2 separate regions of the Homo sapiens genome follow, and region 2 is linked to region 1. The links come from fine-mapping of genetic effects on gene expression. A gene starts in region 1. The other region holds a variant in brackets. All regions are shown on one strand. Distances are from middle to middle. Region 1 holds the start of MRAP2 (melanocortin 2 receptor accessory protein 2). Region 2 overlaps RIPPLY2-CYB5R4 (RIPPLY2-CYB5R4 readthrough).

Region 1 (5,381 bases):
GCATTTTGAGGACAAGGACTGTGTTTTAATCATTGCTATTTTCCTGGTGTCTAGGACAGAGCTGAGCACAGTCAATGTTTGCAAATATCTGTTGAAAGATCAAATGAATGCATTCCTGAATGAACGACTGAAAGAGAAGTATGAGCTTGTGGTGAGCTCATTTTGGAGCCAAACGGTGCTGGGTTTAAATCCTGGCTCTCTTGAAGACTAGTATTGTGACCTAAGGGAGATTACTCTAAAGCCTCTGTTTTCTAATCTTGAAATAAGGCAAATGGAATTTACCTCAAGACAAACCATTGTCAACTTATATTGATGAACAACAGCTATAGCTACATATAACTTAGTCCTGTCACTAAATTTCTGTGAGTTATCTTGGAATGAAAAGACAAAATTAAAAGACAATGAAGCTGTATTCTTGCAGATTAATTTATTAAGAACAACAGTAAAAATATACTCATTGAATGTCTACTGGGTAGAAGACATTATGCTAGGACCTGTGGAGAAATTAAATATAAATTAATATTTGGCCTATGGAGGAGTTAAGGTATACAGTATAGGCTAAATTTTAAAATAAAGTAGGAAATGTCAGGTGCCATAAGAGAGGTATCAGATTTTAGATTAAGAGTTCGTTTGTAGCTGAGACAATGAGGAAGGCTTTTTGGGACAAGTGGTGTTTGAAAAGACCTTTCCTACAAAGGAAAGGTCAAAAGATTTTTGCTGACAGTGGAGGAAGGAAGACAGGAATGAATGCAACCATGAGGAGGTGGAGATATCTAGGAGAGAAATGTGGGCTTGGCCATCCTATTGATGTCATTGTTTCACCAGATGCTGCAGTTTCAGCTTCTGAAACCAAGGGTTAGTGACCTGCCTTTTTCACAAAGTACAATGTGCCCTGGTTTTCTGTCTGGAGCCATTGATGCTCTGCCCAGAACAAGGCCACCTGATGCCGACAGCTAAGGCAGAAATTGGCCTGTTCACACCGTAGCCCCTCAGAAGCAGCAGTTTTGTCACTCTTTTTCACAATGCCCTGAAGACACTTGGCAGAGGCTCTACTGCAGGGGTGAGGAATCACATCCCTGTGAATAGGAATGAGCAACTGGAACTGGTGTGGACACTTGGGGAATGATTAATAAATCTTATCACAGATTGTCAAATTATGTTATTTAGAATCAAACTGCTTGTGGATGAGGCAGAAGATACATACACACACTATAAAGATGGTTTTCTCTAATGACCAGTGATGATGAGCTTTTTTCCATATGTTTGTTGGCTGCATAAATGTCTTCTTTTGAGAAGTATCTGTTCATATCCTTTGCCCACTTTTTGATGGGGTTGTTTTCTTCTTGTAAATTTGTTTAAGTTGCTTGTACATTCTGGATATTAGACCTTTGTCAGATGGATAGATTGCAAAAATTTTCTCCCATTCTGTAGGTTGCCTGTTCACTCCAAATGCCCATCAATGATAGAATGGATAAAGAAAATGTGGCACACATACACCATAGAATACTATGCAGCCATAAAAAAGGATGAGTTTGTGTCCTTTGCAGGGACATGGATGAAGCTGGAAACCACCATTCTCAGCAAACTAACACAGGAACAGAAAACCAAATGAGCATGTTCTCACTCATAAGTGGGAGTTGAACAGTGAGAACACATGGACACAGGGAGGGGAACATCATACACCGGGGCCTGTCGGGGGTGGGCGGCAAGGAGAGGAAGAGCATTAGGACAAATACCTAATGCAAGCGGGGCTTAAAACCTAGATGACAAGTTGATAAATGCAGCAAACCACGCTGGCACATGTATACCTATGTAACAAATCTGTACATTCTGCACATGTATCCCAGAACTTAAAATTAAAAAAAAGAAGAAGAAGAAAAATGGTGTTCAAAATATTTCATTTTACAAGTGGTAATGAAACTGAGCTTTTAAAAAAAAATCAGTGATGAGATGTCATTTCCAGGAATCCTCTTTTGGCACCACCAGCTTGAGTTCATCACACTGCCACCAGCCTGCATGGGTGCTGCATTTCCCCTGCTGCTGTATAATGGTGGTTAAACTATGGTTCTGGGGCACCAGGCTTCCTGACCTTGAAGGCAAGCTCCTCTATTGACTAGCATATGACCTTGGGCAGTTCCTTTAACCTTCCTAAGTTACAGTTTCTCATCAGTAAAATGGAAATGGTGGCAATACCTGTCTAATATGGCATATGGAGAGTAGTAAAAGAAATGACTAGTGCAGTAAAGAACATCTCAGTGCCTGCCACACAGCAAGTGCTTTCTCTCCAGATACCAGCGTGACTTCTTTCTGTCTCATCTCCTTTAGATCTTTACTCCACTGTGAAGCCATCTTTGACCATCCCATTTAAAAATGCACCCCCTACCTCCAAACATTATCCCATTTCCTCCCTTCTTTTTTGTCCACCGCACTTCATCACTATCTCACATACTATGTATTTTAGTTATTTGTTATGTTTATGCCTGTCTCTTTAGTAGAATGCAAGCACCAAGCACCTGTATTCCCAGATCAATGCCTGGCATGCAATAAGGACTCAAGGGAGGAAGAGATGAGCCAGCCCTGCTATGCTGAAACTACTCCCGGCCCAGTGCTAGCCCTTTGGGACCCCGTTTGAACGTCTGACTGCCCTTTGACACCTGGACCAGTGGGCAGGAAGAGAAACTAAAATCGAGGTAGTAATTTAAGCAGCACATTATGGGGGGGCTCTGGCCTTACTGAACTTGAACTCAATGCTGCCGATTTTTCATAAGCCTTGATTCATGATACCCCACTCCCTCTTGCTCAGCTAATGAGCTCCTCCTGTTACCCAAAGTTGACCCGAGGGACCCACTGCAGAGCCCGGGATGGCAAAGAATTCTCTGACTCAGGCTCTGACCCGGACTCGGAGGGGCAAAGTGAGCAGGAAAGGGATCTGCAAAGCTCACCTCCTCTTGGCCAAGGCGGCCTCGCGCTGGGGAGGCGGCTCTCGCGCTGGGGAGGCGGCTCCCGCGCTGCAGCCCTGCTCCGGCGCCCCGCGCCGCCTCCGCTGCGGGTCGGGAGCGCGCGTCTCCGCCGCACCTCGGATCTAGGAGCTACTCGCCCGGCCCTGGGCGGTGGGAGGCGGCGGCGGCGGCGGCGCTCGCGCACCTCGGAGGAGCCAGGAGCCGGAACCAGGGCCGAGCCCGCGGGCCGGGGCTAGCCAGCCGGTAACCACGGGCGGGACAGGGCGCCCAGGGCGGAGCAAAGCCCGGGCGCTGGGTGCGGGGCGCGTGCAGCTTTGGTCAAGGCAGGGCTTGCTTGGGTTTGGGGGCAGTCTTTAGTTTAGAGGGGCTAGAGAATGGGGTGGGAGGAGGAGAATTGGGGTGTGAGGACGCCCACGGGAAGAGTGTGGACCCCGTGGAGAGCACCAAGTTTAAAACCTTCCCGGCAGCCCGCTGATGTGCGTGTGGACGCCGCTGGGCGTCCGAAAAGCCTGGAAGCGGCGGCGCTCGGGGCTTGGGTGGGCTTCCTCCCCTCCGCTGGGCCCCAGCGGCCGAGGCACACCCTTTCCCGCTGGTGAGAAAACTTTCCTTGCTGCGGCCCTCCTGCCGCCTTGGTGCCCTGCAACTGAGAGAGCCCCCCTGGGCTGGGGAAATGTGCTGGCTCCTGGCCCCGGGCGCGCCTCCATGCACTGGGCAGGGTTCTCAGATGATGCCTGGCTTGACAGTTGCTCATTCATTTTGTTTGGACTGGGGAGCCTGCTCGCAGGTCGTGTTACTGATTAGAGGGAAATAGGGGTTTTACACTTTCCCCGCCGCCCCACCCCGCAACCCGCCCCCGCTCCCCCCGCCCGCCCCGCGCCCCGTGCCCCGTGCCTTTCCCATCCTTTCTGTGTAATTAATTGAGGAAGGCAAAGAGTAGTCTCTGCAGAAACCTGTTTGGAGGCGTTGTGGTTTCCACAGCATGTTAGATGGCACAGAATCTCAGCCACTACTCTGCATTTAGTTTGACAACAGTGAAACACTCTGGTGTTTTGAAGGCAAAGGAAGCTTGAGGGAATGTGTCCAGGGAGACGAGAGAAGGGAACTCTTATGCATAAATTAATTCTTACGAAAACCCCAAAAGTAAACAGTAGTATTTTCAGTTTGCAGGTAGAGAAAATTAGATTGCGATATTAAATACGTTTTCCAAGGTGACTGCCCCAGTTAAGTAATAGTGGGGAGTAGGGGTCTGGAAGCTAGGACTGTGAGTCTAGTTTCCTTTAGGTACATTGCATGGGGTACACAGACAAGAACAGGTGCAGGAGAGTGACGAGGGCCTGCAAGGATAAGGTCAGGAAAGCCAGAGGCCACTGTGAGCTGGGGTACCCACAAGGAGTTTCGTTCTTATGAGGAAGATCATCCAGTGTTTATGGAAGAATAGATAATATTAACAGGTGATAGGAAAAGGAAGAGTTGCTTCCAGTCTGTATCTTTCTTTTCAAAGTGAGGCCAGCCTAAACCCTTTAAAGAGGGTCTCGAAGCCCGAAACTGGACTGGATTGTTCAAAACCCAAATGGCAGACGTCCTAGAGTAGTGAAAGCGGTTACAGTCATCTTTGTGCAGGTATGAGAGATGAGAATGGACCCAGGAGACTTTTTAAAAGAGGGAAACATTGAATCCTGGCAACATTCTAGAACAAATTCTTTAAGATAGCTCAAAACTACCTAGGGAAGCATTTACAAATACTTACGCCAAACCAACTCCCTTCCCTTTTCTAGCAATCTACTGGGATATAGATCAGGGTATGCTGTATCCATTGTCTTCAAATGTGGGCTGTGACTCATTAGGCTAATGATCAGTTTAGTGAGTTGCAAATAGCAGTTTTTAAAACATGAAAGCCAAGAGAAAGAAAGATAAGATATCAGAGTGCATTGCAGGAGCAAGGGAAAGTACTGTTTTGTGAAGCGCGCGCTGGTGATGCATGTGTCCTGTTCTGTGTTGCTGATCCTGCTGCCTCTGCGTGAGTGTTCATACCCATCGCTAGCTGCCCCCTTTCAGCCTTCTGAGCTAGCCCCATTCTGGTCACAGTGGGGGTCATCTTCTTTTACCTTGCAGATTATGTCATCAACATATTCTGGAAAGCTGTTCGCTTCCTCCTCCCCATTTCTGTTGGCCCCCAGATGCTGAGGTATTTTGCCAATCAGAATTCATCTCTGAATTATTTATCTGTGACCTTTTTTGATAGTCACAGTTCATAGATAACTTTTATCAAACATATTAAATTAGTTCAAATTGTATAAAGAGAATATCACATCTGTCCTTTTTAGCTTTCAAGGGAAATGTTTTCATTACTTGGAGTACAAAAAATATTGGAAGAACAATATTCTTATGATGTTTGTGTAATATATTTAAGGAACTATTATT
Region 2 (5,381 bases), 120 kb before region 1:
AAAAATGATGGTATTAGTGGCACATACATGTTAAGCTGGTACGCATGCATTGGACAGCTCTTTGGTTCATCCTAGGCAAACTCTGGCACCTGTAGAGCTGAGGATGGAGATAGACACCAGGACCTATAGTGGGCTGAGACATTACTTTCAAAGATTTCTTTTACTGTCACAGCACTGTGAGCAAGGACAAGACATCTATTGAATGGGCTGCCTGCCAGTTGGAAGTTCAACTTTTGTAAAGTCAGTCAAAGTTCTTTCTTCTAGAAGCCTCAGTTTCCTCATTGGTAAAATGGAGACAATTTAGGTAGACAAAGCACAAGCTCAGAGACTAACTGATAGGGGAGAAGTAAGACGGTTACTGGTGGAGAGAGGGAGGCTGGGAGTCATTCTGAAGTGGGCTTTACTAGACAGACAAGTTTGCTATCTCAGCCTGGCTGCCTTAATTTGCTCCTTCTGCTATAGGGCCCGTTGTCTGGGTAATTCTTGCCAGAAAGATTTAAGGGAAAGGTAATTAAAAATGGGAGGTAGAAGTAAGAAGTCCCTGGTTAGGGGGCAGATGCAGACCTAAACAGGAAGTGTGTCTTCTGTAGTGGTATGACTGACTGATGTTTTGTTTGTGTTAGCATTTGTTTTGTTTTCATAGAAAGAGGAATTTTGAACATGTGTATATTCATGTACAGGTGATTCCAGATAAGAAAGGAATCGTAATCCCTCTGATGATAGGACAGGAATGGAAAATAACTGACAAATTGCAGAGTTGATTAAAAAAATGACAAGTGAAGCCAACTTGGGGAGAAAATATGAACTTCTAAAAATACAGCATATGCTGTGATTAAATGAATAATGGAGGAAAAACTGATCCTAGGATAAATTAATACTCTGGTATTTTTAAAGCTTTTTAATCCTCGGATTTTTCAGAATATGTGGATTTGAACTATTAAGTCTTCATTTTAATTCTGCTAGTGAACTAGAAGTTTGAGAGATGTATAAAATTGAAAGATGATTCAGAAGATGATTACAAAGATGAATAGAAGAAAGTAAGGTAAAGATAGTTTAAAACTGCAAAAATTAAGTTTTGTAAGATTTGAGAAATAAGTATGACTTTTAAATCAAAAACAAGAATTAGGCCTGGCTAGGTGCGGTGGCTCATGCCTGTAATCTCAGCACTTTGGGAAGCCAAGGCAGGAGGACTGCTTGAGCCCAGGATTTTGAGACTAGCTTGGGCAATATAGTGAAACTCTGTCTCTACAAAAATTAAAAAAAAATTATATTTAATTAAAAAAAAGAATCAGGTCTAAGTTGTGTTATGAAGAGTTCTGTTTAGAGATATGGAGGAATTTCTAGAGGAAAAAATGGTTATTAAACACATTATACAGAACCAAGAAGTCTTCTGGCAAGGCTAAGCAGGTAAGGGAATACAGAATGGTAAATTTAGGACTTTGTGAGTAAGATCCCTGGCAACAAGACTGAGCTCTTATCTGATGGTGACATAATACCAACCTTTTGGAATAAGAAAGGGGAATGAGGAATGTAGCTACAAGATAATTGTAAAACATTCAATTAATGCTCAGCATTTTTTTTTTCCTAGAATGCTTTTCTTCAAGGACTCCTGACAAATGCCTACACATTTTCAAAACTTAGCTAAAATACTACTTCTTCTATAGAGTCCTTTCAAATTTCTTCCAGTAGAAACGTTCTTCTTCTGTGCTTCAATAACACCTCCTGTATACCTCTTTTACAGCCACACGCAATCTTAAAAAGAGCGTATCATCTGGGTACGGTGGCTGACACCTGTAATCCCAGCACTTTGGGATGCCAAGGCAGGTGAATCACTTGAGTTCAGGAGTTCAAGACCAGCCTGGGCTACATAGCGAAACCCTGTCTCTACAAAAAAGAAAAAAAAATTACAAAAATATTAACCAGGCCTAGTGGTGCATGCCTGTGGTCCCAGCTACTCGGAAGGCTGAGGCAAGAGGATTTCTTGAGCCCACCAGGCAGAGGTTGCAGTGAGCCGAGATATCACCACTGCATTCCAGCCTGGGTGACAGAGAGAGGCCTTGTCTCAAAAAAAAAAAAAAAAAAAAAGCCTATTGACTTTATTTTTAATTCCGTTTATGGTATTTTTTGAATAAGTATTGCACTCATGTGATTCAAGAAGAAGCATCCTTATCATAGTTCTGCCTCCCATCTACTGTTTTCCTCTCCCATGCACACACCAAGGACATGTTTCTGTTGATGTTGTTGTTGTTGTGACTCTTTCCAAATTATCTTTATGTATGATAAGCAGACTGAATATATTTTCTTATTTTTCTAACTTTTTATCCAAATGGTATGTCAATGTCCGTATTATGTCAATATCGCTGTTAAGATGATCAATAGATGTTTATTAAAGAATGAGCATATTGGTAAAAGAACTTCCTACTGGATCTTTCTTTATTCCAGGGTATCCTCCTGTGCCTCTGCTCAGCAGAGGTAAACTAGATTTGGGTCATAATTAAAGATCCTTACCAAGGAAGAGCTGAGTGCTGTTAGATCACAGCACCAGCCTTCTAAATGACTCTGACCTCTCCGGAAATAAAGATTCTCATCAGAGTAAAGCAGTTTAACCAGCATTATGAGAAGATACAAATTTGATTGGCCATGGAGCCAACTAAATGATGGAATTAGTTACCAAGAGAAAACATCAGATTTCTTTTCAGAGAAGAAAGTATCTCCTGTGACTAAAATGATTCAGATGTAAATATGCTTGAAAGTGAAAAACAGTCTCCTCCATTTCTGTAACTCAGTTTTTGAAAAGAGTTGTAAAAACAGAGTAGGAGAATTTTTAAAGGTAACCCAGATTCTTTAAGTGGAAGTTCTCTTTCTACTAGTACTTCTTGTATTTAAAAAAGACTTGGTGGTGGG[G/A]GGGAACTACTAATTTTGCAGAATCCAGAAAGTTCTGACAGATTCAAATCTATTCATATCAGGCAAGAAATAATCATAAGAGATAATATTTTCTTCTTAGAAATAAATTACCTGGGACAATTTTTCAAAATCTGTGAACCTCTTAGGTAAAAACTAATTGTTTTACATGATAAATGAGATTTATTAAACTGTTGACCTTATTGTACACTGAAAATAGATACATGTTCTGTGAATTTCTAAGATAAAACAAATAATCACAACTGCAACAGCAAAGACAGATAAAACTGACTGGATGAAAGTACATGGCCAAGCAGGGACATCAGTGATCCTTTGCAAACTGTAATGGCCAGATTTGTATGTGGCAGTTGATAAACAAAGCTCATTTTGAAGTATAGTTTAAATGGTTTTTAGGCCTACTATCCTTTTAGGAAATATTAACTCCTGGATTGCCAAGAAAAATGGGACTGTGTTTCAGGAGAGACAAATCTAATTTTGGCTTTTTTACTGGAGTGGTAGATTTCATTCAAGTCCTTTGACCTCTGATTTTCAGCCTTTTTTAGGAGATCAGGTGATAATTTGCTGTATGTGGTAAATTCCTTTCAGCTGTAAAATTATTTTGGTAAAATGAGGAAAAGGAAAAGGATGGTCATTTGGCTTCCTTAATTATTATTATTTTGGGATGGATGAGTGAAGTGTAATTAATTATGGAATTTCTGGTGAAATATTGGAACACAAAAAATTTGAAAGCTTTGATTTTAAATACGTTAGTTTCTTTTTGTATAAAACAAGGTGATGTCAGCTTAAGAAATGATGTCTTTCCATTTGACTACTTGAATATTTTTTGTTAGCTTATCCCATTTTTTTTTAAATTTTGACAACTTGCTGAGGTGTTTAGTTTGACTATAATGGTATAACACTTGTGGATATTAGAATATAATATAGCTTTGTGAGTTGGCCGCCATCCTGAAAGAAAATACCTGTTAATTTTTTTCCTGGGTTTGTAACACTAATAATTGCATTGGGTATACATGCAAAAATCTGAACATATTTTAAACTTGTAATAACGATCATTTTATGCATTGAACTCAGTAAAAGGGAAAGATAAGGCATCTTTCTTTGAGTTGTTAATGTGTGTGTTTCATTTATGAAGTATAATCTAATAAATTCTGGTTAACTTGGACTAATTTAAAATATGATAACACGGATGAAACTTGACGTTTACATATGCTCATATAGAAATTAACCAAGATATTAGAAAAAAGTGACCAAAGAATTAGAAAAAATCCAAATGAAATGAGAGACAAACATCTGGAGAAATATGGTCTGGCAGTCTTCAGAGATGAAACTTACTTGTTTAAAACAAAGGCCGTTTCTATATTGGCCTGTTTCTCTCCTCAGGCCTTAGAAGAAAGCCCTTCAAAAAAGAAGGGATGTTATCTTGAAATCAGTAATGTGGACTGACATTCTCATTGACATTAAAGTATTCTTATTTGACTTTTTTTTCTAAATCACTATACAGACTATCGTGAGGAGGAAAAGAAAGTCTTAAATGGTAAGTCTATAAATTTATAATAAATGAATCATATTCACATGCTTATGAATAGTATTGATACACAGAATTGTCTGGGGCATTTAAATTTTTTTCTTTTTTTTCTTTTTGAGATGGAGTATTGCTTTGTCACCCAGGCTGGAGTGCAGTGGCACCATCTCAGCTCACTGTAACCTCCACCTCCCGGGTTCAAGCAATTCTCCTGCCTCGGTGTCCTGAGTAGCTGGTATTACAGGTGCACACCACACACCTGGCTAATTTTTGTATTTTTAGTAGAGATGGGGTTTCACCATGTTGGTCAGGCTGGTCTTGAACTCCTGACCTCGTGATCTGCCCACCTCGGCCTCCCAGAGTGCCGGGATTACGGGCGTGAGCCACTGTGCCCGGCCTAGATTTTTTTTTTTTTTTTTTAATATGAAAGATAGCTTTACTGGCCCAAACTTAAGAGTCTTTTGTAGGGTTTTATAGGCTCCTTATTCCAGCCATTACTCTTATCGTCGTGCCTTCTGTGACATCCCTGAATACATGTTATCTTCCCTCAGCTTGAATACTTGTAGCAGTTAGGAGTTTCTTCCTCAGAAACAAGACAAAATAAGTCAGTTTTCTTAGATGTGAGCTCACCTCCATTGTTTGCATACACATGCCAAATAGTTTATTAATCTACAATTTTTTAAGCTGAGTGGTGCATCCAGCCATTCTGGATGACTTGCAAATAATGACTGACACTTCCTCTCCCCCGCAAAAAAGTTTGGCATGGTGGTCACTACTGACATAAAATGCATGGTGCTAACTCTGACTGAACTATATTGATGTACATTTAGAAACATTTTTTTCTTTCATTTGCAAAAGCAAGTTACAGAAATGCAACTAACAAGCTAGATTGCCAGATGAGTTACCTTTTTCTTTGTTAACTGAAATAGTCTATATT

What was found. PIP is the estimated chance that this variant, and not a neighbour inherited with it, causes the effect.
Region 2: its variant is the best candidate, but not a certain one, in a credible set for the expression of MRAP2 in nucleus accumbens (GTEx, PIP 0.60).

The regions. Positions count from the first base shown.
Region 1 is chr6:84,030,681-84,036,061 of GRCh38, forward strand. MRAP2 (melanocortin 2 receptor accessory protein 2) reads left to right here and starts at 3,092. Exons shown (of 4, transcript NM_138409.4): 1 at 3,092-3,203.
Region 2 is chr6:83,909,993-83,915,373 of GRCh38, forward strand. It overlaps RIPPLY2-CYB5R4 (RIPPLY2-CYB5R4 readthrough), which reads left to right. Exons shown (of 18, transcript NR_174604.1): 7 at 4,424-4,456. It overlaps CYB5R4 (cytochrome b5 reductase 4), which reads left to right. Exons shown (of 16, transcript NM_016230.4): 5 at 4,424-4,456. Among named protein-coding and RNA genes, the nearest start is that of CYB5R4, 53 kb to the left of the region's middle. The variant G/A (reference allele first, on the strand shown) is at 2,905.